4 linked regions of the Homo sapiens genome follow. The protein of the gene in region 3 purifies or fractionates together with the protein of the main gene of each other region. This does not show direct contact. Each region holds a gene or a part of one and is shown on either strand. Other genes may lie near its edges. The genes, in order: FBN2, WDHD1, GREM2 and FERMT2.

Region 1 (6,762 bases), on a different chromosome or scaffold from region 3:
CAAACAAAACCAAAAACCATAAGTTTTTCCTCACAAACTCTTGATTACAAATTTACACTGTTCCTTTTTTCTTTTTAGTTATTAAAAAAACAATAAAACCTCAAAATACTGGGTATAACTGGTTACTAATCTTTGGTCAGCACAGGTTTGAGAGGAACAACCAGGAGCCTGCATGTGCTTTGGCCATTTCACATATGAGGTTTGGTCACTGGTCCAGGAAACAGGTTCTTGGGTTGAGAAGAATAATGGATACGTGCTCTTAATAGCACATCCTGGTACAATATCTTTTTAAATGACTAAAGCAAACTAAACATCAATTCATTGTACAAACATCTTTCATACACAATAGGCTATGATAAAATGAGGCATATGGTGTATAACTACAGTATTAATGAAAATTCTAAAAAAAAAATGGGTTTAAAACAACAACAACAACATATATTCCTTGGCTGCATTGCATGATTTGTTTGCACATATGGCAATCCTGAAATAACTTGAACATAATAAATGCACCATTATTTAAGACAGCACGAAACACCACAGAATGCCAGGTGTTCCCTTTCAAGGGAACGGCGGTTCTTCAGCTGCCTACAGTACCATGAGGACGCAGCGCACCCTGGGTAAGAATGAGGTGTTGTGGGTAGCACATATGGTTCCTTGAGGTTATGAGAAGGAAATACAGTACGGTTTGGCCTGCAATGCTAATGGTCTCACAAGCAGTCAAGGTATTTTGCTACAGTGGTTGTGCTTCAACTTCTGTTGCCTGGTGTGTCTGGTGATATGAAATGTTGTCACAAATGAGCTGCTTTGGCTTCGATCTACGTTATAAAGGATCTAATGACATTCATGTTTTTTAAATTATTGATTACACTGCCCATTCAGCTCTGTGTGGCTTTCTTTAAAATCATCAGGTGTGTATCAGCTGGATGACTGGCAGAAAACCAAAGGAAACATCTCTTGTATCTATTGGATTTTTAAAAAGCACCTCTAAAAAAAATAGCTCAAATTTATAAATCTAAAGAAAAACAAGTGAGTTTCCCTTTTTGTTTACATAGTTTGTTCATTTCTCCATATATTACTGCATTAAAAATAAATAAACATCTATATTTTTTTAATTAGCAACTATAGCAAAATACCCAAAGTGTTACAGACTGCTAACAGGAAAAAAAAAAAAAGCTCACATTATTTTTGTGCATTTAGTGCCATATGCTGATATCTTGAACATTTAGGTTTCTTTTAATATATTTTAAAATGAAGTTATATAAAAAATACAGTAACCACGGTTGCCTTTGTGCTCAAATCTTTGGCCATACCAGAGTCTAAATTATCCCTCCCTGTGAGGGTCAACATTCAAAGTCTAAGACAGGGAGGAAAGAAACAAGAGTTATTATTATTTTTCCTCTTTAAAATTAGTCCTTGACTTTTCAAATGCTTCTGCAGACTGGCTGTGCTAGGATTTGAGCCTGGGCCCAAGTCTGTGAAGGGTTAATAGAGCTGAATCTGCAGCCTCATTCTGAGAGCCTCCCCAAGCTCCCCTAGGAGGTAGTCATCCTCATTGCTCTCTTCCAGTTTCTTAAGCTCCTTCTTCTTGTAGAGAGGGATGCTAGTGATTTCCAGTGTGTATGTGCCGGGCATGAGCTTCTTCTTGGCCGTGTGCAAGTAGCTGAGCCCATTCCTTTGGTGGATGCGGAAGACGCTGTCATCGTTCCCTTGAGAGATGACATAACGGATGTGGTTGTTGAGGGGCTGGATGGCGGGCCTTAGTTCCAGGATGTGCTCCTTAGAGCCGAGGTGGGAGAGGTTGAACTTCATGTTGACGGGGCTGTCCATGTCGACACTCTCTAGGCTGATCTGTTCAACCTGGAGGAAGAACAGGAAATGATTTGGGACAAGCTTCTACAGCACAAGCAGAGGACTAGAAAGAGATCAGCTGCAGGGGCTTTGGTCACGAGGACAGGCTGTGGCTTCCCACTCCCGCTTTCTGCACTCTCCTTACCAGCAGTGGCTGTGAAAGAGGCTATTGTACATTTTTGTCAGTTGGAAGAAAAGGCCAATTCCATCGAGAATACCCTGTAAATCTTTAGGACTTCTCACTCAGCCTTAACAAGGTAATTAAAGGTACAGGACTGGGCTTACAGAGTGTTCCCATTTCAAGTTTTTTTTGATGAGTTTATGAAATATTGTGCTAATTAATAATTTTTAAAAACTAAAATTTAGGTAATGATTTTTTTTTTTCTGGAGTCAAAATAAGAAGTACTGCTGTTGGGCATCAGCAGGGAATGCGCCCAGGGGAATCTTCTGTCTGAAAGCTGGGCTTTGATTTGTAAGGTAAGTGAATGATGAGTGAGTTTACTGGGAGCTATCAGAGGTACACAGAGTGAGTGATCTGCAGAGTTCTCAGGGCTCCAGTTCAAACCAGCATCTTTGGTAAAAGCCAGTGGGGCAGGGCCCAGATAAACCAAGTCTGACTTTTGCTCAGAGGGTTGGGAGGAGCACAAATATATCAAAGTAAGATAGGATAAAAACCACAATGCTTTGATTGGGCATCTGTTAAGTGAGGACTTGGCAGTGGTGACCCAGAAGTGCCCATCAGTGTTCAGGCAGAATTATGTCCTAGTACCCCAATGGGAAAGTTTATAAGCAGAACTTCTGGATTTGTAGTTTGGGAACTTGATGAATATCTCAACTGTCAAACATCAGTTGGGTATCTTAGTCTACTTAAGGTAAATGTAACACTGGCTTATTTATTATTATAAAATAGCATCATGAACTTTTTGGCTAGACAAGTCAGGTCATATAGACAAAGATTCTGAGGCCCAAAAAACTGAAGCAAGTTGTCCAATTCACACAGCCAGCCAGTTGTTGATTAGGTTTTTTGGTGGGGTAATTTCTCAGTCATATTAACTGCAGAGAGTGGTGAGTGACGACCTCATACTGTCTCAGATCTTTGGGAAAATCATCAAGATCTCTAGATATGAGATATTAATCATTCATAGGAACTGAACACATGTGATATATATGTCAGGCATTGTTCCAGGCAGTTCACATGTTTCAATTCAATTAACCCTTCCATCAGCCTTCAGAGGTATTATTATTCCCATCTTACAGGTGAAAAAACTGAGGTTGAGAGAAGTTAAATAAACACAAACTATGTAACAGAGGTAACAGATAGGGAGGGCCAGGGAGTTACGTTCAAAACCAGGTAGTCTGCAGCCCACCCCTTTAAACACTGCCAAAATGCAATTAGGGAAAGGAAATATCAGTGGCTCGCAATTTCCAACTTCAGTTCCTTAAAGAATACAAGTGATTTGGAAGACAAAACTTCTTAATGAAGGAACAACTGTCTTAAAAATAAAACAAAGAATATGAGACCTACTTGGTTTCCCTAGTGAAAATTAAAATCAGCCTTGTATGCTATACATTTATAAAACAGAACTGAACAAATTAAAAATAATTTCATTTTTTGAATCATGTAAAAATAGCTCTTCCCGAGATGGACATACCCTCCCACATAAATCAAAAACTACAACAAGAGAAAATGCTCTGAAACTGTGAATCTTAAAGTCTTTTCTCCCAAGCTTTGTGTTTTGATCTAATAATTCAATCACTTTAATTTACTTGTCTTTTCCATACTGGGTCCATTAATTTATCCATTAAATTCAAGGTATGATTAACTTCAGTGAGGCTGAAAACGACGTGAACTGCACTGTATACATGACTCCGTAGGGATAAAATTTTGTGGCAACACAGAGTGGGATATACTCACAGCAGTGGGATCAGGTTCATGAATACTTCTCTTCTGCCTGCTGTCTTTCTTAGAATAGCCGTTGATTTTGCACTCGTAGCATGCTTCTGGGGACAGAGCATTTTCCTCATCGACCTCTGTATCCAGTGACAGGTACTGCCCCTTGTTAAATCCCATTCCTGAGACACAGTGGCTATTTGCAAAAAGCAAAGTATTGTTAGACTTTATCACTGACTTGACCATAGTTTTCCAGTGGTAGAGCAGACTCTTCAGAAACACGAAACCAACAGAGCAAACACTAAACTCATAAACATAAAACCCTAATATTCTTTGCAACTCTTTTATTTTTCTTTTAGAGACAGGGTCTTGCTCTGTTTCCCAAGCTGGAGTACAGTGGCACGATCTTGCTCACTGCAGCCTCAAACTTCTGGGCTCAAGAGCTCCTCATGCCTCAGCCTCCAAATTAGCAGGGACAACCGGCACACACCACCACATCCAACTAATTTTTTTTAATTTTCATGTTTTGTAGAGATAGGGTCTTGCTATGTTGCCCTAGCTGGTCTCCAACTTCTGCCTTCAAGCGATTCTCCTACCTCGGACTCCCAAAGTACTGGGATTGCAGGGATGAGCCACAATCCCCTATAATTCTTTAACACACAATAGATAAACTTTTCCCTTATTTTGAAACAGCAAAATTCTTCTGAGGGTGAGCCCCATGCTTTCCCAATTTTCAATCTTAGTTAGACTGAAGTACTGAGCATAATTAACTCCAGAAGGTAAAAGTAAGGTATGAATTTCCAAAGAGAATGCTAAGACAGGTTCCATTGTTTCAGGGGCCTGAAGCCTGTATTTGCTGCTTGCAACAAAGCTCCCTGCTTTAAAAACTGAGATTTCTGAACTTATATTTTGGTTAGTGAGTCAATGAATTGGCTCTAAATGACCTTTGTGTAGACCAAGCCTTTTGTTTTAACTATTATCATACACCATTGTTGGACAGACTTGGTCCATGCCTTTTAGTCCCTGCCTTGCACACTGCTCCTTTCAAAGAAGGCAACCTGGACTGACCTCTAAATGCCCATCTTCTGTGTTACTGAGCACCACGGCCTTCCTGGAAGAATGCAAATGGCCAGCACCTCTGCCACAGCCCATGGAACTTGAGACAGTGCGCCTAGTTGGAGGGAAGCCTGTCTTGTGGGTCAGGCCCGTGCTGAATGACACCACACCAACTAGGCACCATCCTCTCTCTGTGCGATAGGAAAGCCACATGAGCAAAGAAAGGGACAAACTCCTTCCTCAGTGATCACTATGCTAGCACCTTCCAGAATTTGTAGAAGAACCTGTGGCAAGGCCATTTCCACTTCTACCTCACAGCCCAGGTATCCATGGCAACGTGTGAGCCGCATTTTTAAGCATCTGTTTGTCTCTGGCCTTGGGTCAAATTGAATCAATTCAGGCCCTTAATAAGAGGAGCAAAGAGTGATATTTACATACAAGTTCAAGTTTTATGCTCATCACAAAGGAAGTAATGCTATACCCTGAGCACAGTCCGTGTGTGCTTTCTTGGTATTTATCTGCATACCCGAAGAGTTCTAATCAATGCTTTTGCGGTTTGGCTTTTAGACACTGTACTCTTCCCTGCAGTGGGGGGTGGCCTGAACTCACTCAGGAACCATGTATTCCTCTATGTGCTGAGGCTGAAGGCCGCCTTACCCTTGTCCCACTCTGTAATACCCAGGGGGGCAGCCACAGAGGTAGCCCCCCTCCGTGTTAGAGCAGCCGTAATTGCAGGGGTTCTTGGAGGACGAGCACTCATTCACGTCGTGGCAGGCACTGGAGAACTGGTCGAAGGAGAACCCCGAGGGGCAGGCGCACTTGTAACTCCCCAGGGTGTTGTAGCAGGAAGCAGAGCCACAGGCATTGGGATTGGAGCATTCATTCTCATCTAGTGAAACGAAGAAAGAAACTCTTACACGGGGAAGCAGGCAAGAGCAAAAACGTGAACAAGTCTGGAGTCTCAAGTGCCTGTGATTTTATGGCAGAAATAACTCTAACACAGTATTTTATTTTATTCTGACGACTGATTTGCAAAGCACGTGAATGAAAAAAATTCCCCTAAATTGTGGCTTTAAAAAACCCTTGCTTTGCTCTTTTCTGTTTGTACTGTTTCTAAATATGTCTGCAGCCCTTGGGAACAGATATTTGCAGTTTGCCTAGTGAATAACTCTTCTATTCTCTTAACAGAAGGTTACTTCAAAAGCTTATATCTCGGGCAAATCCTTAGAGATAGAGAGAAAATTAGTTGCCGGGGCCTGTCGGGAGGAAGAAATGGGAAATGACCGCTCTTGGGTATGGTGTTTCTTTTGGAGGTGATGAGAATGTTCGGAAACTGGTAGTATTGATGACTGCATACCTTTGTGAGAATCTACAAAACCCATTTACATGTACACTTTAAAAGAGAGAAGTTTATGATATATCAATTAAAAAAGTCCCTATAAGTATTTGTATCCATTCCCCCAGCAATTCCCCAAACCTTCATTATACAGGAGGAGAAAGCATAAAAAAATTTATAAACCCTAAATGAAAACGATGGAAAACAACACTATTTAGTTAAATCAGTTGAACGAACAACTAGTTCAGTTTAAAATGCTTGAGAACCCATTGGGTGCAGACTGTGCTTTCTGAGGCAGGTTTGCATCCAGCCATCAGCCAGCTATAGCTTTTACTCGCTTAATGACTAACATTATACTATAAATACCTGGTAGCAGGATAATTATAGGTTATACTTTCAGTTACTATTATCATTTTTACAAAATCAAAGTCTGATTATGCTTTCAACTTTGGAGATTATAAGTTTGCCTTAACTGTCTGGTTGATATACAGCATGTGGCTTGACTTCTTTGGGCTTTTTTTATAATCCAAATTTCACCCTGGGAACAAATCACATCTGTTCCATGGAATTCTTTCAATTCTTGTGACTCCATGTGGAGCAAAGAGTGTCTGTTTACCTAATATGTGAC
Region 2 (7,844 bases), on a different chromosome or scaffold from region 3:
AATGAGAAAGTTTCATTTACCTCAAAAAAATCCAGGCTATACAAACAGACAACTGAAAGCCACATAGGAAATTTCCGAAACACAAAAGAAAAAGTCTCACCTACAAGATTATTTACATGTTTAGGGCCAGTATTATTAAAAGACGTCATCCCCTAGGTCTAGTAGAAACATATAGAGAAGTCTATGCTAACACACTTGGAAAGAGGACTATTGTCCTTCCTTGCACATGACAAAAACCAAATGAACCAAACCCCTAGAAGGTATTAATGCACAAAGGTTTTAATACCTTGGCTTTAATGATTTTTCAAGGTTAAGAAACAAATTCAAATTGGTTGGAGCTTCAACTCAGTAATTACAATCACAATGCATCTCTGAAAGGCCCTGCATTTGGAGGCAGAGTAATCTGCAAAGATGATAGTTTTTACATATGTCCTGTTACCTACACCAATATAATTACTACATTATCTTATAAAGACAAACAGTTGCTTCAAACTCTTTAAAAAATATATATATAATGAGTTTCCCAAAGACTCGAGTCTATATTCAAAGATGAGTAAAAAAAAATCCATTACTTCCCTAGGGTCACTTTCTTCCTTTACTCCTGCTTAAATGCAAAAGCTGATAGTTTCTGATTTGTAGAAAAATCTAAAGGTTTCTGCTTTTTAGACAAATTCAGGTTCTCTTTTGCTTTTTCTTCCTGGTTTTCTGTTTCATCACTTTCATCAACCACACGTTTTCGCTTCTTTGCTTCAGTTCCTTCACTTGCCGTTTCTCCTTTGGCTTTGTTAGCCCACACCTTTGTAAAATGGCAGGAGTGAAAAGGAAAGATTTTTAGAAAATAACAAATAAGAAGTAAATGATTTATTTACTTTTCCAGGTAATATTTTTATATATAAAGCAGAATAATTAGCACTTGAATTAAGTGTTCTCATTGTTAACAAATCTTTTATTACTTAAATGCAGAGCACATTAAAGATTTACACTACTTTTATATCTCAATCTAAGCTTTGCTTATATTAATCATATTAGTTGCAAAATACTATAATTGCAGTACTATTTAAAAATGAAACTTTTGGCCAGGCACGGTGGCTCATGTCTGTAATCCCAGCACTTTGGGAGGCCGAGGTGGGTGGATCACGGGGTCAGGAGACTGAGACCATCCTGGCTAACACAGTGAAACCCCGTCTCTACTAAAAATACAAAAAAATTAGCCGGGCATGGTAGCGGGCGCCTGTAGTCCCAGCTACTTGGGAGGCTGAGGCAGGAGACTAGAGTGAACCCGGGAGGTGGAGCCTGCAGTGAGCTGAGATCACGCCACTGCACTCCAGCCTGGGCGAGAGCAAGACTCCGTCTCAAAAAATAAATAAATAAATAAATAAATAAATAATAAAAATGAAACTTTTTATTCTAAGATAATTGCAGTTTCACATGCAGTTGTATGAAATAATACAGAAAGATCCTGTGTAGCCTTCACCCAGTTTTCCCCAGTGGTAACATTTTGCAAAACTATAGCCCAACAATCACAACTATAGGGAACTGACATTGAAACAATCCCATTTTACTTCTACTCATTTGAGCGTATGTATGTATTTACTTTTATTGTGGGTTGGTTTGTTTACCACCACAGTCAAAATACAGAACCTCTTCCCCAAGCCCCAACTCCGACTCCAACCCCTGGCAACCACTACTCTATTCTCCATCTTGATCATGTTGTCATTTCAGGAATGTTATATAAATGAGTATATATTCTTTGGGGTTTGGTTTTTATTCACTCAGCAAGAGCCAGACAAGGTCCATTCATTTCATCTGTCTCTAAAATCTCTTTTAATCTATAATAGTTCCCCACTCCTACTTTATTTCCCTGGCCATTTCAAGGGCTCTTCAAGCTGTAGAATTTCTCACATTAACAAACTGGATTTAAGTAAATGTTTAGGGTTTACCTTAAAAATACTGATTACATTTTTAAGTATTCAAAAACACAATCACAGACTTTGCCAAGTCTCTTCCTCTTTTGCAGTGTAAAGTCTTATTTATTTAGACGCCATTTTATTGAACAACAAATGAGAAACATAAAATTGTAAATGAGGTTCTAAATGACGCTAAAGGTGTTTAAACCAGTTTCTGGCTTCCTCATTATGCAACACCTTTTTCATAAAACCCAATTTACCAAAGCAAGTATCTACGTTACTAGGTGCCTGTGCTGCGCCCTGCCATTCCTGGGGAAGTGAAACCTGAGGATTTAACTGGTACACCACACACATTCCTTCCACTTCTAACTGAGAGATTGTGCCTTCCTTCCTTCACATGGCAGAAGTTTATCAGAAGCAAGCCAGCCACCTGTCCTAATTTCCATGTGAAAGGCTGGAACAGAACACCAGTCTTTTTCCCAAAAGGAATAGTCTCATGTAGTATTTAATGTGTAAGTAGATACAATTTTTAAAAATTCTGCTTGCAAGAACCCTAAAGTAGTATTCAAAAAATGTGAATTCATTTTTACTTATTAATTTTTTTCCCCCTAGAGACCCGGTCTCACTCTGTCACCCATGCTGGAGTACAGTGACACAATCACGGCTCACTGCAGCCTTGACCTCCTGGGCTCAAGTAAGTGATCTTCCCACCTCAACCTCCTGAGTAACTGGGACTACAGGTGTGTGCCACCATGCCAGGCTAATTTTTAAATTTTTGTAGAGATGGTGTATCACTATGTTGTCTAGGCTGGTCTCAAACTCCTGGGCTCAAGAGATCCTCCTGCCTTGGCCTCCCAAAGTGCTAGGATTACAGGCTTGAGCCAACGAACTCAGCTTGACACTTTTGATTTTTAACAAATGCATCTTTTCTTGGGGTATTCTCCTAACTTAAAACATACAGGAACTTATAGAGATTAAAACAGTAAACCGTCAAAAAATTAACCATCCAGCCTGGGCAACACAGTGAGAGGTTGTCTCTATAAAAAAAAAAAAGAGGACAATTGCTTGTGCCCAGGAGGTCGAGGTGGCAGTGAGCCATGATCACACCACGACACTCCTGCCTGGGTGAAAGAACAAGACCTGCCTCAAACAAAAACAAAACAAAAAACCCATCACCATTACATAATAATTACTACATATCCATATTACCATATATCCGCACTTACTTTCCTCTTTAAAAAGTTTGGTGGATGTATTCAATTTCCAAAAACAGAAAAAGGCTTTTCCTTTTTTTTTTAGTTGTCATGATCGTTATTATCTTTGTTGTTGTTATTATTATTATTAGAGACGATGTCTCACTATGTTGCCCAGGCTGGTCACGAACTCCTGAGCTCAAGTGATCCGCCTCGACCTCCCAATGTGCTAGGATTACAGGCATAAGACACCATACCCAGCCAAAAGGCATTTCTATAAGAATTTTTTAAATCTGGGAATTCACTAAGATCTCAATCTCGGCACAATTATCCTTACCTTTCTTTCTTCAGTTGACAATACTCTAAATCGAATCATTCCTTCTTTTATTATGTCTGCTTCATCTGAAAAGTCAGGATTGTCAGACAAAATATTACTTCTATTTTCTTCTAACCACATCTGGAACCCGGTCTTTGGCCTAAAATCACAATTATGTGAAAACATTTTATACTTAAGACAGAGTTTAAAGTGCCTCATGATTTTAAGTTAGTAATCAACCATAAGTCTCTGACATCTATTATATAAAGTAAGGAAGACACAGTTACACTTGTTAATTCATGTTACTTTTTTTTTTTTTTTTTTTTTGAGACAGAGTCTCACTCTGTCACCCAGCCTGGAGTGCAATGGCGCGATCTCAGCTCACTGCAACCTCCGCCTCCTGGGTTCAAGCGATTCTCCTGCCTCAGCCTCCCAAGTAGCTGGGATTACAGGCATGCGCCACCACACCTGGCTAATTTTTTGCATGGGGTTTCACCATGTTGGTCAGGCTGGTCTCAAACTCCTGACCTCACGTGATCTGCCCGCCTCGGCTTCCCAAACTGCTGGGATTACAGGCATAAGCCACCGTGCCTGGCCTCATATTACTTTAAACTGCCTGGAGACTGCAGGATCAATGAACTGGAAAATCCTTTGTAAGGTCAATTCAAAAGGATCACTCACGTTTGTATTTTCCAAGTGCAGCAACCATGAACTCTGTACTTTCAACTTTTTAATGAATGTTGACAGGCTCAAGGTCTCCAACCTCACTTAGCCCTTGTGGCCTACCACATGTCCTTGGTAGGCTCTTTTTCTATTTCCCCAAACCAGCTATTTGAATTCCTCACGACTTTTCTCAAGCCCCTTTGCCATCGCCTCACCCTTGCTCTCAGAGCTGACCTGCATCAGCATTAGGTGAAGCACGGACACAGCACATTTGTACATTTCATTAGATTCCACTCACAATACAAATTGTCTTTAAGTCACACAAGTGAAGGTTTAATGCAAATATTTAACATTTACTGATCACTTACTATCTACCAGGCACTACTCTAAAAGCTTTATGTATAGTACCTCATTTAAATGACAATAACACTATGAGATGGATACAGTTATTATCTCCATTCCATAAGTGAGAAAAGGGAGGCTCAGAGATGTGAAATAACCTATCCCAGGTTACACAAACAGTAAAACTCAGACCTGGGATCCAACAACCAGGCAATTTGACTCCAAAGTCTATGTTTTTTTGTAGAGATGGAGTCTAGCTCTTTCCCCTATGCTGGAGTACAGTGGCTCTGTATTGGCTTACTGCAACCTCCACCTTCCAGGTTCAAGTGATTCTCCTGCCTCAGCCTCCCAAACAGCTGGGACTACAGGTACGCGCCACCACACCCAGCTAATTTTTGTATTTTTAGTAAAGACAGGGTTTCACCATATTGGCCAGGTGGGTCTCGAACTCCTGACCTCATGATCCACTCGCCTCGGCCTCCCAAAGTGCTGGGATTACAGGCGTGAGCCACTGTGCCTGGCCCAGAGTCTCTTATGTTTAACCCAGCAGCTATACGCCCCTCACTAGGCTGAACCTAAATGAATCCTAAATAAAAAGTCTAAACTTTTTAAGGTTAAAAAAATTTTTATTAAAAAATTACTAGTATGACCATAACCATTTGCCCAATTTCTGAAAATATGCAAATTTTAAGTAATCTTAACGTAAACCGATTTCCAGAAAAATAACAGAACAAATCAAAACAAGTAAAAATCAAGGTATAACAAAGGTTCCTGAATTTCCAAAAATTAATGAAGACCCATTTTAATGAAACTTGGGGCAATGTCACAAGTCTACTTAGTGGCCTGCAATCATCTACTTCTAAACAGCTATTTTTAAAAAGAAAACCAAAATTGAACATTTCTTTCTTTGTTTTTTAAAGAGACGTGAGTCTCACTATGTTGCCTAGGCTGGCCTCAAACTTCTGGGCTTAAGCAACCCTTCTGACTCAACCTTCTGAGTGGCTAGGACTACAAGAGTGCACAGCCACCTGGCTAAAACTGGACATTTCTGATTAAGTATATCAACATCTGTGACAAAATATTAGTTTCAATAGTGGTAATTCCTTAAAATTTCAAAAGTAAGTTTTTTGTATAACCAACTGATAGTATGAAAAATTAAATTATCAATCTTCTTTGTTGTTGTTTTAAGAGAAAGGGTCTTGCTTTGTCGCCCAGGCTGGAGTGCAGTGGTATAATCAGCTCACTGCCACCTCAAATTCCTGGGCTCAAGCAATCCTCCTGCCTCAGACTCTCAAGCAGTTGGGACTACAGGCATGTGCCACCACACACACCTGGCTGATTTTAAAACTTTTGGTAGAGATGGGGTCTCCCTACATTGCCCAGGCTGGTTCCAATCTCCTGGGCTGAAGCTAACTGATCATGTTGGCCTTCCAAAGTGTTAGGCTTGGCCAGGTGTGGTGGCTCACACCTGTAACCCCAGCACTTTGGGAAGCCGAGATGGGCAAATCGCTTGAGGCCAAGAGTTTGAGACCAGCCTGGCCAACGTGGCAAACTCCATCTCTACCAAAAAATAACAAAATTAGTGGGCATGGTGGCACACACCTGTAATCCCAGCTACTCAGGAGGCTGAGGCATGAGAATTGCTTGAACCCAGAAGGTGGAGGTTGCAGTGAGCTGAGATTGCACCAGTGGACTCCAGCCTTGGTGACAGGGCAAGACTGTCTCAAAAAAAGTGTTAGGCGGGCCAGGCATGGTGGCTCACACCTGTAATCCCTGCACTTTGGGAGGCCAAGGCGGGTGGATCACCTGAGGTCAGGAGTTCAAGACCAGCCTGACCAACATGGAGAAACCTCATCTCTACTAAAAATACAAAATTAGTCGGGCATGGTTGCGCATGCCTGTAATCACAGCTACTCAGGAGGCTGAGACAGGAGAATCACTTGAACCCAGAGGCAGAGGTTGCAGTGAGCCGAGATTGTGCCATTGCATTGCAGTCTGGGCAACAAGAGCAAAAAGAAAAAAGTGTTAAGCGGAAAAAAAACCATGAGCCACTATGCCCGGCCTATCAATTTTCTTAAATAAAATTTTCACTGTTTAAGACCTAAATTAAATTCAGAACAAAACAGGAAATGTGAAAACCACAGCCACTCCCTCAAACTGGTTAACATAAAGTCATTAAGAAAATAAGATATACTTTATTATTATTTTTCTCCCTGGACTGTTCAGCATGAGAAAAATGAGATATATTATGGTAAAAATGAAATTGTGACTGTTCTTTTCTTTTTGTTTTTTCTGAGATGGAGTCTCACTCTGTTGCCCAGGCTGGAGTGCAGTGGCACAATCTTGGCTCATTGCAGCCTCCGTCTCCTGTGTTCAAGCGATTCTCCTGCCTCAGCCTCCCAAGTAGCTGGGATTACAGGCATGAGCCACCATACCTGGCAAACTTTTGTATTTTTAATAGAGATGGGGTTTCACCATGTTGGCCAGGCTGGTCTCGAACTCTTGACCTCAAGTGATCCGCCCACCTCAGCCTCCCAAAGTGCTGGGATTACAGGCGTGAGCCACTGTGCCAGGCCAAAATTGTGACTTTTCAAATTTAACGGATATATTAAAAATAAGGCCAGGAGTGGTGGCTCACACCTGTAATTCCAGCACTTTGGGAGGCCAAGGTGGGCAGATCACCTGAGGTCAGGAGTTTGAGACCAGCCTGACCAACATGGAGAAACCTCGTCTCTACTAAAGATACAAAATTAAGCGGTTCCAAGATGGTCGAATAGGAAGAGCTTCAGCCTACAGCTCCCAGCATGAGCGATGCAGAAGACGGGTGATTTCTGCACTTCCAACTGAGGTACCAGGTTCATCTCACTAGGGCTTGTCGGACAGTGGGCGCAGAACAGGGGGTGTGGCACACCGAGTGTGAGCTGAAGCAGGGCAAGGCATCACCTCACCCGGGAAGCGCAAGGGGTCAGAAAATTCCCTTTCCTAGCCAAGCAAAGCTGTGACACACAGCACCTGGAAAATTGGGTCACCCCCACCCTAATACTGTGCTTTTCCAATGGTCTTAGCAAACGGCACACCAGGAGATTATATCCCACTCCTGGCTCAGAGGGTCCCATGCCCATGGAGCCTCACTCATTGCTAGCACAGCAGTCTGAGATTGAACTACAAGGCGGCAGCCTCAGCCAGGAAACTCGAACTGGGTGGAGCCCACTGAAGCTCAAGGAGTCCTGCCTGCCTCTGTGGACTCCACCTCTGGGGGCAGGGCATAGCCGAACAAAGGCAGCAGAAACCTCTACAGATTTAAATGTCCCTGTCTGACAGCTTTGAAGAGAGTAGTGGTTCTCCCAGCACAGAGTTTGAGATCTGAGAATGGACAGACTGCCTCCTCAGTGACAGGTGGGTCCATGATCCACAAGTAGCCTA
Region 3 (7,844 bases):
GACCACAGCATGGAAACGTCAACAATTCATTATAAACACAAAAGGTGACCTAATGTTTGTTCGTCCCTTTTGAAGTCTATTCTTTGAAAAGGAAGCATGTTTTGTGCAGAACAGTTCAACTAGATTACTATTCTATATCTTTTATTCCTTACTCCCTTCTATACCACAAAGCGACTCAACTCCTTATATTTTTCAATATCCCTCTCTTTTTCTCTTTCTTTTAACAGGAAATATTTTTTGCCTAGTGTCATGGCAGTGAAAGTAGTATACGGTTTCACCCCACATATGCATATTCCACATTATAGGGGCTTTCTAGTTTCCGGTCATCAATTTCCCAACGAATGCCCTTCCCTATACCTATCCATCCCAAGCCAATTTCTACATTGTGCTGCAATGCTTAGTAACGTCAGTGAAATAGTATTCAAAGTAAAAATCACGACTCCTCCCATCTCCCTGCCCAATCTAAAAATAGGTGCATGACAGTGAATTGCTGACCAGGCATTTTTTTTTCTGAGTAAGACACCTTCTGGGCCTGCTGTCATCCTTACTCCGAATGGTGCTGCAAGCCAGAGTCAAAACATGTGAAATAATACATGAATAGGTCTATAATACTTTTTAACAGCTCTTTACAATATACGGTCACTTATAAAACCAGCGTTAATATAGAGACCTTTGTGTGTGATAATATTCTAATTGCAGCAATAATAGCATGCACACCAGAGTTCATCTTTAGTCCACAAATAGGGGGCGGGGACAGTGAGGAAGAAGAGGCGGTGGGGACTTGAGGATGGGGGATTGTGTAGCCTGCTCTGCTCGAGGTTTCCCGGGAAGCCCACTTCGGGATCCAAGTGGCTCAAGTTGTCTTCTTGGTATCAGGTTTATTAGGAGACGCCCCGTCCACCGACATATTTATGGAGGTTGCACATATCCTCATCACAGCAGCGACCGAGGGCAGCCTGCCAGTCACAAGAATGAGCGCTCCCAGCCAGAGGTCCAGGGACCAGCAGGAGAGGTCTGAGGGGCCGCTCAGAAAAGTGACGCATCCTTCACTTCGCGCGGGAAAGGGGCGAGCTGGAGTGCAGGGCGGGGCCAGGGAAATCCTTGCTTTTCCACATGGTGGAAACATCAATGCCGGATTTACAGTGCATCACCTCGAAAGGTCCTCTCTGACTGCTGGGTGGCGGTGGTGGTTTTCCAGCATTTTCCTTCGGGCCTGATCCACCGCCTGGTTTAGGGGGCACAGGTGGGACCCGGGGTCGGTCAGGAACACATCAGCAAAAGCTCCACTTGCGATCCACGTCTGTGACAAGGACACCGTCAGCCCTAAGAGAAGTGCTTGCTGCTGAGGGGGAACACCAGGCAGCGTGACAGTGGGCTCGGAGGGCAGGGACAGAGGCGGCGGCGGCGCCACCCAGCGGCCGGGCGCGCGCGGGGCTGAGCTGCGTCCGGCCCGGCGCTCACTGCTTGTCCGAGTCGCTCAGGTTCACGGACATGCACCGGCACTGCTTCACCTTCTGGATTTTCTTGAGTCGGAAGGGTGGGTCCAGGCCGGGGCACTCGAGCTCCACGAGGACGGAGGTGACGCGCTGGGGCTTGCAGAAGGCGCAGGACTGGAAGGACTCCTCCTCCTTCTTCACGTGCCGCGGGATGTAGAAGGAGTTGCACTGGCCGTAGCAGAAGCGGTTGAGGATGGTGCGGCTCCGGCAGCCCTCCTCGCTCACCGTCTGCCGCAGCGGCTGCGTCTTGCACCAGTCACTCTTGAGGTACTTGCGCTCGGTGACCACCAGGGCCTCCTGGCTGGAGGCCAGCACCTCCTTGATCTGGTGCTGCCATCTCTCCGAGTTGTTGCTGCTGCCGTCCTTGTAAGGCGAGGGGATGGCGCCCGCCGGCCGGTTCTTCCGGGCTTCCGCCACCTTCACCAGCACCGCCACCAGGAACAAGGACAGGGAAAGCTTCCAGAACATCCTGCAAACGAGAAAAGAGAGGGGCTGGCTGTGAAGGGCCGTAGAGTACGGGATCAATCTTACTTATTTTTTTTTTTATTTTAGACATGGTCTGGCTCTGTTGCCCAGGCTGGAGTGCAGGGGCACGTAGCTTGCTGCAGGCTCAAACTCTGGGATCCTCCTGCCTCAGCCTCCTGTGTGGCTAGAACTACAGGCTTGCACCACCACGCCCATCTACTTTCTTTTTATTTTTTTTTGTAGAGACGGGATCTCACCATGTTACCCAGGCTGGTCTGGAACTCCTGGCCTCAAGCGCTCCTCTGCCTCAGCCTCCCAAAGCCCTGGGATCATAGGCGTGAGCCACCACGTCTTTTTAATGCTGTACGGTTTTACTAGCAGTGACAGTCAGGTGGGGCATGGCAGACTGATGGCTGCCCAGGGGCAGCTGGAGGTGAAAAGGGATTAAATGGTACAAGTGTAGGCAGTTAGGACTGCACCCCAAATAATGCCTGGAAGGCAAGGAGGCGGACAAAATGGCCAGTAACTTATGCAGTAAATGCAGTTAGAAAACACGCGTGTTGAACAGTTACAGAAGTACAAAGCAAATGCTGGGAAGAGAGACCTCAAGCCAGTTTGCAGAAGTACCAATAATAGTTAATACTCAATATTTACAGTGTTTTACTTTGTGCCAAGTGCTGTCCTAAGAGTACATCTCATTTACATGTATATCTCATTTCATCCTAAAAATAGCCTTCAGTTGGAGGTGGTATTATGACCCCTTTACAGTGAAGGGGTCACTTTACAGTGAAGGAAACTGAGGCTGGGGCCCACAGAAGTTGAGTCATTTACCTGAGGTCACACAACCACTAAACAATGGCCCAGGATTTGAAGCCAGCCAGACATCTACCTCCAGAGCCATCAATGTTAACCAGCAGACATGGATGTGATTACAAAAATTAGTAAGTACAAAGTAGAGAGAAGATGGGTGTCGTTCACAAGTTTCTTTAAAAATGAGTATTAAAGATAGAACTGGACATAGGCTAGAAAAATTACTAGTTGCATCTGTATTATTACATATGAATAATAACATTAGCATTTAACATCTGCACACAGATGTTCAAATCATTCAAATGAGTCATAAATTAGAGTCTCCTAGTAGAAACTAATTCCCAGGTGTGAATTAAGAAATTTCCCTAGCTGACTTTGGGAGGCCGAGGCAGGCGGATCACGAGGTCAGGAGATCGAGACCATCCTGGCTAACACGGTGAAACCCTGTCTCTACTAAAAATACAAAAAATTAGCCAGGCGTGGTGGCGGGCGCCTGTAGTCCCAGCTACTTGGGAGGCTGAGGCAGGAGAATGGCGTGAACCCGGGAGGCGGAGCTTGCAATGAGCCGAGATGGCGTCACTGTATTCCAGCCTGTGCGACAGAGTGAGACTCCGGCTCAGAAAAAAAAATAAGAATAAAAAAATAGAAATTTCCCTAGCTGTATTAAAACTGTCTGATGACAATGCAAAGTGTCATCTCATTTGTATTAGGAGACTATGACACAAATTCAATAGGAATGAGAATTGGACAGAAATTATTCTCATGCTATCTAAAACGTGGCTTGCAGGGCACAAGCCAAAGTCTGACTAAAGTGAAAGATAGACTTCAAAGTGTAATTCACATTTTAAATTTTTGTATTTTTAGTAGTAGCCCCAAGGAACACTAATACCCAGCAATATTGAGGACTCTGATCTCTTTTTACAACGGTAGCTACCAATGTAGCTGTTACCAACATCATCATCATCTTTATGTTTACTCATTTTCTGTTTTACCTTCTCTAGGACTCCATGAATTCCCATTCTTTTAACATGTATACCCTAAAATGGACATGTAACAATTATATATACATCATATGTATCATATAGTAATATAGTATATATCAGTTGTTATATTTATCAATCATGAGTATATAGAAATAACTAAAATTGAATATTAAATATGTTAAATGTTTGAATTTTTTACGTCTTAAATATATCCATGCTAATGGTAATAGCAAATATTTATTGATTCTCAAAGTACATCAAACACTTACAGTTTACTTTCATGTATAGACGTATTTAATGATCTGAGTTCTATGAAGTAGGTACTATTATTTTCTTCATTTTATGGATGAGGACACTAAGGCATTGACAGGCTGCCAAGATTCTATAGCCAGTATGTGAAATATTTGAATCCAGGCATCCCGGCTCCAGAATCTGAGCTCTGGGTGAGTATAGCTGCCTCTTTGTTAAAAATATTTACGTTAAAATATCTATGCTAAAATTATTTCTCTGAGTCTTAGTCTAAGTCTAAACCACAAGAGGCCTTTGCATGCCACCTTGGAGATGATTCCTTTATTCATCAAGTATCCATGGAACGTTTATTCTGGAGTAAGCACTGTCATAGGCTTTGTGAATTCCAGTATCTTAGAGAATAAGGCAAAGGTTTTTTTTGTTTTTGTTTTTGTTTTTTTTTTGATGGAGTCTCACTCTGTCACCAGGCTGGAATGCAGTGGCACGATCTCAGCTCACTGCAACCTCTGCCTCCCAAGTTCAAGCAATTCTCCTGCCTCAGCCTCCCAAGTAGCTGAGATTACAGGCGCGCGCCACCAGGCCCAGCTAATTTTTGTATTTTTAGTAGAGACAGGGTTTCACTATGTTGGCCAGGCTGGTCTCGAACTCCTGACCTCAAGTGATCTGCCGGTCTCGGCCTCCCAAAGTGCTGGGATTACAGGCCACTGGGCCAGGCTAAGGCAAAGTTCTCACAGGGTCGGACGAGCCTTTACAAGATCTCCCCACTCCCCTGCATCTCACCAGCCTCCTCCGTCCTCTCTCCCACTTGCTCACTCTGCTCCAGCCATACTGGAAATAGCCTATCTGTTTCTAGAATGAGCTTGGCATTCTTGTGCTCTAGAGCCTTACCTTGTCTTTCTCCCAAATGTCTACTTGGCCTTCTTCCTCACAGTCTTCAACTCTTTGCTCGGTTACCACCTCTGTAGCGAAGGCTTAGAGTTACCTTCACCACCATCGTGGACGTCACCGTCTCCTCCTTCCCTGCTTTATCTTCCTCCAGGGAACTTATCATCTAACGAGATAGTATTTCATAATCACACTTGTCTTTCTTGTCTGACTTTTCTCCTGGGAATGTAAGGTCCAAGAGAGAAGACCTGCCTGTTTTGTTCATTGCCATGTCTCCTGCTCTCAGAACAGTGCCTGGTGTACAGTAGGCACTCAATAAATGTGTTAAGGCCAGGCTCAGCGGCTCATGCCTGTAATCCCAGCACTTTGGGAGGCCAAGGTGGGCGGATCCCCTGATGTCAGGAGTTTGAGACCAGCCTGGCCAAAATGGTGAAACCCCGTCTCTACTAAAAATACAAAAAAATTAGCTGGGCGTGGTGGCACACACCTGTAGTCCCAGTAGTCCCAGCTACTCAGGAGGGTGAGGCAGGAGAATCGCTTGAACCCGGGAGGCAGAGGTTGCAGTGAGCCAAGATCATGCCATTGCACTCCAGCCTGGGCAACAAGAGTGAAACTCCATCTCAAAAAAAAAAAATGTTGAACGAAATATGGATACTATACAGGTCATTGCCTTCAACAAGTCTGTAATTAAGAAGCCAGAGAAAGGCATGCACGTGACTGCGTGACAAAGGTATTTAGGAAGAATGGCCTGGGTCCTTGTGGTAGTGATCCTGTGACCAACGACATCTGAATCACCTGTGGTACTTTACAGTGCACATTCCTGGGCTCAAGAAGCATTCTTTTTAAAAAAAGTTTTAATTAAATTTCTTTTTAATTTTTAATGTTTGTGGGTACATAATAGGTATATATATTTATGGAGTACATGAGATCTTTTGATACAGGCCCCAAAGCATTCTGGGTCAGTAGTGTTGGGGTGGGGTTTCAGATCTGTATTTCTAAAAATTGCCTCACCCAATTCTGGTGGGATCCAATGGCCACAAAGTATAGTGAGGGCGAAAGGGAAAAGCATCGGTTCTACCTGGAGAAGGAGCAGGAGGAGCTTAGGAAGTCACAAGTAAGTGGGTCCCTTGAAATCTGAACAGGATTCCTCAGGGCGATGATATGGGCAAAAGCAAAGGGTTTGGTACTGTCGATGACGCTGGGCAAAGGGAGTAAAAAAAAAAAATTGAAAGCAGAAAGGAGAAAAAAAAAGTTTTTTTTTTTTTGCAAAAACATTTTGTCCAGCACAATTATTAAAATTTTAACGCCTCATTTTTAAAGGGTTTTTCTCATGCCTCCTTAGTTGCACACATGAAATGTCATATGAAAATGGCCACGCTTCCAGCTGGCTCAGGCCAAGTGTCAAGTATTGGACTCGCTCAGCTTACATAGCTTATTATATTTGTGGAATGATTTGTGATCTCAATAGCCTCTTAAAAAGAAAGTATTTTGGTTCCATTTTAATAATTTCCGAAATTATTAACATTCTGAGTAAACATAACCAAGAGTTTGCAAGTCCCAGCCAGGAAAGATTGACAGAGTCAGTCTGGTCCTCAATTCCTAGTTCCAGTAACAGCTTCACATGCATGGCTGATAGACTCAAAAATGCACGCTTTCCTTCAACAGGTCCTAGATCTTATCAGAGAGAACAGAGCTAAGACAGAGCTGACAGAGCTAAATCAGATCAATTTGAGGCAAAACCTCTTAGGGCCAATAGTATTAGATGTGGTGCTGGGCATTCTTTGAACTCATTAACATGTTTTCAAAACATCTGGCAATCATCCTTAGAAGTTAGGTCTCACGGGAAGCTAAGCAAAAATGCAAACCTTCAACTTTCAGGAAGGGGGAAAAGTGGTTGAGGAAATCTCGATGACTGGGGCGAAGTCAGTCTCTTCTCTTTTTCCTTTCCTACATCTCATTTCTTTTCTCCTTCACACATAGCAATAGTAAGATGGCCAAGGATCTGGCATCTCACTGTCAGACAGGTAAGTAGGCAAGAGGTGTTCGGCCATGGTGACCCACAGTGACTGTGAGGCTGTATCCTCCTACTTCAGAGCATTCAGGCAGTTGAGCCAGCAACTGCTAACGGCACCTACACTGCTGGCCCTTGGCTGTGCAGAGTTCACCAGGGGAGAGAACGTCCGTTCTCTTGCTTGCCTCTGTCCGTTCGCTCATCATCCCTGCACAAGCATGTCAGCGGCCCCGCCAGGAGCTGAATTTAGCACTTTATAGAAAGTCCCACTCTGTCCTGAACCACTTTGCTAATCAGAAAAATGGTTGGCACACAATTAACCTTTCAGGAATGTTGCCACCCCTGCCGGTAACGACAGCACGAGGATACTTCATTTTATTCTCACATCTTGTATTTGGCTTGTATCAGAAGAAACTCATAAATAAATCCTGTTGGTTTTATTAACCATCTTTCTGGCCTGACCATGTTCTCAATTTACAAGGGGTGCCAGGACTGTAAATGCTGATGGTCTAAGCAGACTGGGTTGGCCAAAGTTGGTTGTGCAAAGAGAGAGGTAGTGGAAGTGCTTTCCTTTTAAGTGAACGCCCTCAGGCCTGGCCTCTGTAGATACCAGAATAAGGACTGCACAGGCCAAAGCAAGCTAGTATTTAGGCAGCTAAGGAATCCATCACAGGCCCCTTCTATCAGCCGTTCCTAAAAGTGGCAAGACCTGAACAGGGGTTCTACAACAGGAGCTTGAACAATAAAACTTCCTGATTTCTAGGAAAGAATACAGTAGTGCTGAGTCATCCTTCCTGACAGGCAAATGCAAGTGACCAATGGCAAAGGGTACAGCTAAGCTGATGAACTCACTCCAAGAGTGGCCTTCTTGAGTTTTAGAAGTCAAATCAAGTTAGCCCTGGGCTGTGCAGGAATGGTGAATGGCGTGGGGCTGAAACTTTTTCT
Region 4 (7,844 bases), on a different chromosome or scaffold from region 3:
CCCCAGGACTAACGATCCCAGTATTCTTTAAATGCTGATAAAGAGTTCACAACTTTGCTTTGTGTTTTAGGATTAACAGTGTTCGGATTTTAGAGGGTTTTTTGTTTGTTTGTTTGTTTGTTTGTTTGAGATAGAGTCTTGCTTTGTTGCCTAGACTGGAGTGCATTGATGCAATCTTGGCTCACTGCAGCCTTCGCCTCCCGAATAGCGTGCACCACCACTCCTGGCAAATTTTTGTGTTTTTAGTAGAGACAGGGTTTCTCCATGTTGGCCAGGCTGATCTCGAATTCCTGACCTCAAGTGATTCAACCGCCTCAGCCTCCCAAAGTGCTGAGATTACAGGAGTGAGCCACCACACCTGGCCTAGATTTTACAGGTTTTTTTTAGTACTAACATTGGAAGAACACATGTCAGGGACATAAAATCAAATATCCTGTGTCCAGCAAGAGATTACATATTTTCAGTAAAAACTTTTTTTTTTTAACTTTGCTTCCTAGACTAGGTCATGACAGCTACAAAAATCTCTAGCATTAGCACCACTTTTTCACAGGCAGTGTTTCTATCATTGCATGGGGAGAAGAGTTAAAAATAGTAGGAAAGGAGATGGATTTCTAAGCTTAACCCTAAATTTAGGGAATGGAAAAGCCATTTTCTTTACATTAACAGTGTTATGCCCATTGCACATTTTCTTTTGAAAAATTATGACAACAGGACAAAATATAATTTAACAGAGCTAGGACTTGGGGGAGCTGCTTGTCCTTAATGTCATTCTGAACATTTTTAGATGCCTTAAATTCATCTCCTTAATTTTTGTAGTTTAAATAAAGGAGCACATACCATCTGTTGACTAATGTAACAAATTGTTATTTACGTAACCTCTACTATATGTCTAGCCCTAATACTAAGAAATCAGAAGATAAATAAGGCAATATCCCTTCCTTTTGAGATTTGACTATTAAATATATCTCTGTTTAGACTCTTTCTAGGGCAGACTTTTATCTCCCCTTTTACATTAATACTTTATTTGTTGTACCCCAGAACTTAAAAATTAAAAAAAACTTTATTTGTAAAATTGTTGAAACCTGTTTATTCACTGAGAAGACTTTACTATAAAATTATTCTTAATCTATATGAATTCAGTTCTATTGTGTTACCTTCAAATTGTATGGATTTCAAATGGTGGTAAAAGTTGTAGACATATTTGTCACTATATACTTGACTACAGCACAACTTCATTCTTTTAAATTGAACAAAAAAAACCGTTTTACTTAGGTTGTAGCTTCTAAGGTTCTTTACTCTGAAATCCACTTGAAATGTGTACTTCAGTTTATGATTCACAATTAGGGAAAATCTGTTTTTTCTTTTTCTCATTTTCTTTTCATTCTTTTGTTTCTGTCCTCTGTTGTGGCCTTTCCTTTACCTTCTGAATTCCTTTCTTTCCTTTCCTATAGGCACTGATGTTCTTTACATTGGCCCTCTGAAAGGTGAGCCTTGCCACAATTTAAAGACAAAAAGTGTTGGTCTGTCTGCTTCAGCTATATCCTTATTTTCTAATTCTCTTGAACTGATTTTTTTTCCCCAGAATTTCTGCCAACTTAATTATATTCTTAAGGCTTTATTACGTGTTTTAATGTTATACAAGGAGAATTAATTACACATGTTTTCATAACAGGTAAAATAATATACTAAGCTTTCCTTTCAGAATAAAACTTTTGTTTCACAATGTGCTTTATATCATAATATGTGTTATTATTGAAAAATAAGATGCTGTACTGCATACTTACTACCTGTTTTTCATGTTACTTATTAGGAAGTATATATTCAAGCCCAGGACTGTATAGTAAAACAATGACCCCCACTTATGATGCTCATGATGGAAGCCCCTTGTCACCAACTTCTGCTTGGTTTGGTGACAGTGCTTTGTCAGAAGGCAATCCTGGTATACTTGCTGTCAGTCAACCAATCACGTCACCAGAAATCTTGGCAAAAATGTTCAAGCCTCAAGCTCTTCTTGATAAAGCAAAAATCAACCAAGGGTAAGTTTTAAGATATAGATAAAATTGAATTTCTTCATCCAGCTAGAGGTAGAAATATTGTCTTCATTCTGTGTTGTTTTGTTCCACTGTTCTTAATTTGTCCAGATGGCTTGATTCCTCAAGATCTCTCATGGAACAAGATGTGAAGGAAAATGAGGCCTTGCTGCTCCGATTCAAGTATTACAGCTTTTTTGATTTGAATCCAAAGGTACCGAGGGTTTAAAGGGATCTTTTTTTTTTCCCCATTAATTTGTTTTGTTCACATGGATGTTTGTTTTTGGAAGTCGGTGGAATAAGGAATTATTTGTATATAGGAAATCTTGAATAATTATTAAAAACCCAAACTTTTAGGCAAAGGTATTTGTATTTTAAATAAGTCTATTTTAGTAGGTTGGAAGCATAACTAAACCTTTTTATTGTTGTTATTAAGATAATGAAACTTTTGGCTGATTTGGTTTTATCTTTTTTTTAATCTCTAAGCTCTTAGAGTGTCATGATTTGTATTTTAAAGGTACTCTTTTGGTACTATAGAACTGGCAAAGTTTAGGCCGGGTGCAGTGGCTCAACGCCTGTAATCTCAGCACTTTGAGAACCCAAGGTGGGCGGATCACATGGTCAGGAATTCAAGACCAGCCTGGCCAACATGGTGAAACCCCGTCTCTACTAAAAATACAAAAACTAGCCACGCATGGTGGCACACGCTGGTAATGCCAGCTACTTGGAAGGCTGAGGCAGGAGAATCACTTGAACCTGGAAGACGGAGCTTGCAGTGAGCCGAGATCATGCCACTGCATTCCGGCCTGGGCAACAGGGCAAGACTCCATCTCAAACAAACAAAAAAAAGAATTGGCAAAGTTCATTTTTAAAATATAAGACCTCTCTTCAACTATATTTAAATAAAAGTTTCAAAAAGGTTACCTTTTCAATTACTTTTAGATTACTAATTACGTGCCAAAAGATGTTGCTTCAAAAAAACGTTTTTTTCTTGAGACAGGGTCTCACTCTGTCCTCCAGGCTGGAATGCAGTGGTATGATCATGGCTCACTGTAACCTCAAAGTCCTGGACTCAAGCCATTCTCCCACGTCGCCTCCCAAGTAGCTGGGACTACAGGCTCACCCAGCCACACCTGGCTTTCTTATTTTCTGTAGAGACAGAGTCTCACTATTTCACCCAAGCTGGTCTCAAAACTCCTGGGCTGAAGCCATCCTCCTGCCTCAGCCTCCCAAAGTGCTGGGATTACCGGCCTGAGCCACCATGCTCAGCCAAATTTTTCTTAGGTCTACATTTTTTTCCTCTGTAACAGACAAACACTGTTACTTGTCTTTACTATGATTGGTATTATCTCTGCTACCATAGTACTTCACTTTTCTGGTAAGATTTAACTTTACCATAAATATCTGGAGCTTTTTTCCCCCGTAGAAAACACTTGGCACAGAGGTTTGAATCTTTTACTTCTCTTTCAGCCTGGGGAAAGAAACCTCTCTTGGCTACCCTCTCATCCTTTTCATGTTTAGAGTATAGTCTAGATTTTAATGTTATGTTTACATTCTTTTATTATATGCTTAAGTAATTCTTTATACAACAGTAAAATCTCTATAATAAAATTATAGAAAATAATTTTAATTCATTTTCAGGCCACATCATACCTACTTTTAGTAAAGCCAAAGCTACTTTGGGAATAGTTACATTTGTGAGGGGAATGGAGATGTATTTTGTCAACGTTCTAAAATACATGTTGAGCATTCCTAATTTGAAAATGTAGAATGCTCCAAAAGCTAAGACTTTTGAGGGCTGACATGATGCTGAAAGGATATGCTCATTTTGGATTTTTATGTTAGGGACACTCAACTGGTATAATGGAATATTCCATCATCTATAAAAATTCTAAATTCAACACAGAAGGTCTCAAGCATTCTGGATAAGGGATACTCAATCTGCAGTATTCTTAAGGCATTACTATTGACTTTTATTTATATAATTAAATGGATAATTGAATAACATATAAGTAAACATTTTCCACAAGTATATTTGCCCTGTATTTTGCATACTTAAAATAACTGCCGTTTCCAAGGACTTGCCACTTTATCTGGGTATGCTTCTCCACAGTGAACAAAATGTTCCCCAGAATAATTTGCTTTCTGATTACATGTTTGTATGGCAAGTTGCAGTAATAACACTGAAAAATAATCGGTAGTTCCGCCTTACTTTAATGTCATCAAATTAGATTTCTTATGTTAAAGGCTATAATGTCTAGTGGTTATTTCCCTGAAAAATAACATACAGAATCTACTTTTTAATACTGTACAATCAATTATTCTCTGTCATATTTTAATGTCATTTTTAATGGAAAATTAGATGTGGGCATATATAGGCATGTCTGACCCCATAGGTATCCTTCTAATAATACTTGATTGTAAATAAAAATTCTTGCTTGTAAATTAAGATCCCAGGAAAAAAAGCATTAAATTTTTCTTGTCAATTGAATATTCAGAGTTTGAAATTTTTCAATGGTAAAGGTTATATATTACAAAAGAACTATTTCTCTTGTTGCAGTATGATGCAATCAGAATCAATCAGCTTTACGAGCAGGCCAAATGGGCCATTCTCCTGGAAGAGATTGAATGCACAGAAGAAGAAATGATGATGTTTGCAGCCCTGCAGGTAGTTGAAAGGTCTAGTAAATGGGACTTATTCCGGTAAAGGGTAGGGAGGTATTTTTAAACAGTAAAGTGGAATAGTAATTCCAGTAACATTTCACGAGACAGAATTTTTGCCATGAAGAAAGTGAGTAGACACTTAGGAAAGCAAAACAAATACATTTTAGTTTGATTTTTTATCTTTTCCAAGAGTTCAGTGGTATACTTAAGTACTTTTCTCTATTTTGTAGGAAAAAAATTATCCTATTTTGTAGGAAAAAAATTATCCTCTCACCCCCAAATATAAATCTGCTCAAAGCTCCTCAGTTTTTCCTTGGAAAGAAAATATTTATTAAAAATCAGATTTCTGAAATCTAATCTGAAGCTTACCTGTATAATTTCATAAATAGCCAGGGATGATACAACACACTATAAAATGGGCTGTAGCAAAGCGATGCTTTTAGGTGATAAGATTTAGAGAGACTAGTGGAACCAAACCTTTTTCTACAATGATAATCCTTAAGTAGATAGCTAACATTGTCCTTAGATTAAACCAGTTTTTTCATATGTGGTTCTTACATACCACCTCCTTCAGAATTATAGGGGAGCTTATTTAAAAATTAATTATCCACTTCATGAATAACTTTAAGGTGGCATCCACACATCCACATTCTTACAGATACTGAGGTCTGATGACCAAATTAATTCATCTTTCTTAAATTTCAGATACCCGAGTAATGCTTTGGCAAGTATTCCCAGTTATGACGGGATTCTAGGTTCAGCCTAAAGTCCTGATGAAGTTGGTGTTCTATAAATAACAGAAGTACAGGAAGCAGAGTTGACATTCAGTTGAAGAACTTTTCACTGTAGAAGGGATTTTGTTTTTCCTTAGAACACAAACAAAAATGCTCTCAGTCTTCCAAATGCCTCCTTTATGCATCCAGAAAAGTTTTCAGTTGTGACCCAAAAAGTTGACATTAGAAAGCAAGAATGGGGAGTGAGGTTAGCAAAAAAAAAAAAAAAAAAAAAAAAGCAAGAACAGCTAATTTTCACCTTAGTTTTACATAATGAAAGGAGTGGCAAAGAAGCATAGACAAGGAAAATAAATCCCAGGTGACAGATGGATTAATCAGTTATTTTCTAGGAACTTGATTAATGAGCCAGTTAGGATCCCGTATTGTGTTTCCAGATAATTCTGACTCTCTGGTGAATTTCTTGAATTAAATTCTGGAGCAGTTTGTTGGGAGTCCCCTCACGTGGTTATGGCTTTCTTCCTGCATCCTCCTCACTTTGATACAGGCTTATGATTTTCTAGTGGAGGTTTTGCCAATGATAGAATAATAATACCTGTAAAATATGTGTGAAAGACCACAGATTTTATACTGTTGCTTTATTTTTGTATTAAAAAATAGTACATGTTTATGGTTATTGTTTTTAAAACCAACAGATGCCTATTATATGCCTGGCACATAGTAGGTGCTCAAAACGTGTTTGTAAAATGAGAGTACACACAGTTGTGTTCTCACAGGAATGGCATGATTCTGCAGCCCACCTCCCCGAGTGTATCTTGGGCATTCCATATCACTACAGAAGGAACACCTCAGAGACCACAGGTTTTAATTCATGGAAATGGAATGGTCTCAAACCATAGCCCTCCAAGACCATTTTAGAATCTAGATATAATGAGAGTATTTTGACATACAGATTTGAGTTGTTGGAGGCTTTCTCAGAGACTGACCCTAAGGTTGTAGGAAGCCAACTAGTACCAGAATAAGGAAACTGTGAAAGTATGGTGAGGAGGAGATGCCTAGAATTTTTTCTTTCAGAGAGAACCTATACTCCGAAGTATACTCTCCTTGGGACATCTGGATCCTTGTGTAAAGTAAATTTACAATAGTAAAAAGAAGCAGAATAATACAAAACAAGAAGGTGGGGATAAAAAGTAAAGTAGATGAATTAGTAACATTGTTTTTAAAGCATTTAAGTCAGAGTATGTATTAAGAAATTTAAGATATCCCTTGCACTTTTGAAAGCAAAGCTGGATTTTTTAAGTCCCATTCACAGCCAGGATTTCTCCGGTATGACTCATAAAGACATTTTGCATCAGAATTACCCAGAGCAGTGAGTAAAAATGCAGATTCCAGGCTGGACCCCAGACTTCCTGAATCAGGATCTCTGGAGTAAACCTAAGGATCTGTATTTTTGACCAATTCTTCACCAGACTCTTAATATACTCTGACATTTGGGACCTGAGGGCCTCAACCTCTACCTCATTTCCCATAATTTATGAACATTGACATTTCTACAATTGTAAGATCTCATTTCAGCACAATTGAAGTAGTCAGAGACTATTCATTACCAATCAATCACTAAATCTTAAAACACAGAACATTGGTAAGTGGCCTCAGATTAGTTCACTAAATGTTCCCATGAAATGAATGTATTAAATGAATACTTTAGACATTTGGAGTGCCACTTGTTGCTTTGAAAGGTAATTGATTAAGATTTAAAGGTTCTGCTGACCTTTGTAGAAAACCTAAGGCTTAACATAATATTTGTTCTAAGTCACTTACTGAAGTATATTTAAAATCAGTAACTATTCTGTATCCAAAAATTTTCCTGTCTACATATGAGTAGTCATCACTACTCACTACTCTCTCTCTGCCCCCACCCCACCCACGTATATGTGGGTGTCCATGTGCGTACTCACGTACAAACATTCTTAGATATGAGAATACAGAACATGAAGCAAGGATGGGGAAAAAGTGGAGTTTTAGCTTTCGACATAATAATGATGACTTTCTCCTGGGTAATAGGAGCAGTGTACAGCATTCAGTGTTCATCAGTTTCTACAAAAGACCTTATGCATATTCTGTATGTTCATTCAATATTTCTTGATAACAGGCCCTGTTATAGACACAGGGCAGATTACAATGAAAAAAAAAAAAGTCAAAAATCTCTGTTAATGTGAAGTACAGTTGAGGACCAGTTAACTCTCTTAAGTCTTAGAGCCCGCAAATGATGAATTCATTGGTATGTGTCCAAAGACCCTACTTCTTTTGGATAAGTATTTATTAGCAGGTTTAGGATATTGATTTCAGGTATTTATTTCCTATCGTTCTAGTTCCTAGACGCTTCTGTCTTTTCAAATTAGGTCCTGAAAAGCATTAA

What was found.
Region 1: the proteins of GREM2 (region 3) and FBN2 purify together in Homo sapiens (affinity purification with mass spectrometry; one large-scale study listed by BioGRID and IntAct). This does not show direct contact.
Region 2: the proteins of GREM2 (region 3) and WDHD1 purify together in Homo sapiens (affinity purification with mass spectrometry; one large-scale study listed by BioGRID and IntAct). This does not show direct contact.
Region 4: the proteins of GREM2 (region 3) and FERMT2 purify together in Homo sapiens (affinity purification with mass spectrometry; one large-scale study listed by BioGRID and IntAct). This does not show direct contact.

The regions. Positions count from the first base shown.
Region 1 is NC_000005.10:128,257,970-128,264,731, forward strand, and holds part of FBN2 (fibrillin-2 precursor), read right to left. Parts: intron 5,688-6,762; coding exon 5,456-5,687; intron 3,939-5,455; coding exon 3,767-3,938; intron 1,861-3,766; coding exon 1,486-1,860; 3' UTR 1-1,485.
Region 2 is NC_000014.9:54,940,895-54,948,738, forward strand, and holds part of WDHD1 (WD repeat and HMG-box DNA-binding protein 1), read right to left. Parts: intron 3,577-7,844; coding exon 3,438-3,576; intron 797-3,437; coding exon 596-796; 3' UTR 1-595. UniProt on the Homo sapiens protein: Core replisome component that acts as a replication initiation factor. Binds directly to the CMG complex and functions as a hub to recruit additional proteins to the replication fork.
Region 3 is NC_000001.11:240,491,512-240,499,355, forward strand, and holds part of GREM2 (gremlin-2 precursor), read right to left. Parts: intron 6,087-7,844; exon of another isoform or gene 5,967-6,086; intron 1,966-5,966; coding exon of another isoform or gene 1,965-1,965; coding exon 1,458-1,964; 3' UTR 1-1,457. UniProt on the Homo sapiens protein: Cytokine that inhibits the activity of BMP2 and BMP4 in a dose-dependent manner, and thereby modulates signaling by BMP family members. Contributes to the regulation of embryonic morphogenesis via BMP family members.
Region 4 is NC_000014.9:52,875,436-52,883,279, reverse strand, and holds part of FERMT2 (fermitin family homolog 2), read left to right. Parts: intron 1-1,451; coding exon of another isoform or gene 1,452-1,484; intron 1,485-1,810; coding exon 1,811-2,036; intron 2,037-2,141; coding exon 2,142-2,244; intron 2,245-4,590; coding exon 4,591-4,698; intron 4,699-7,844. UniProt on the Homo sapiens protein: Scaffolding protein that enhances integrin activation mediated by TLN1 and/or TLN2, but activates integrins only weakly by itself. Binds to membranes enriched in phosphoinositides.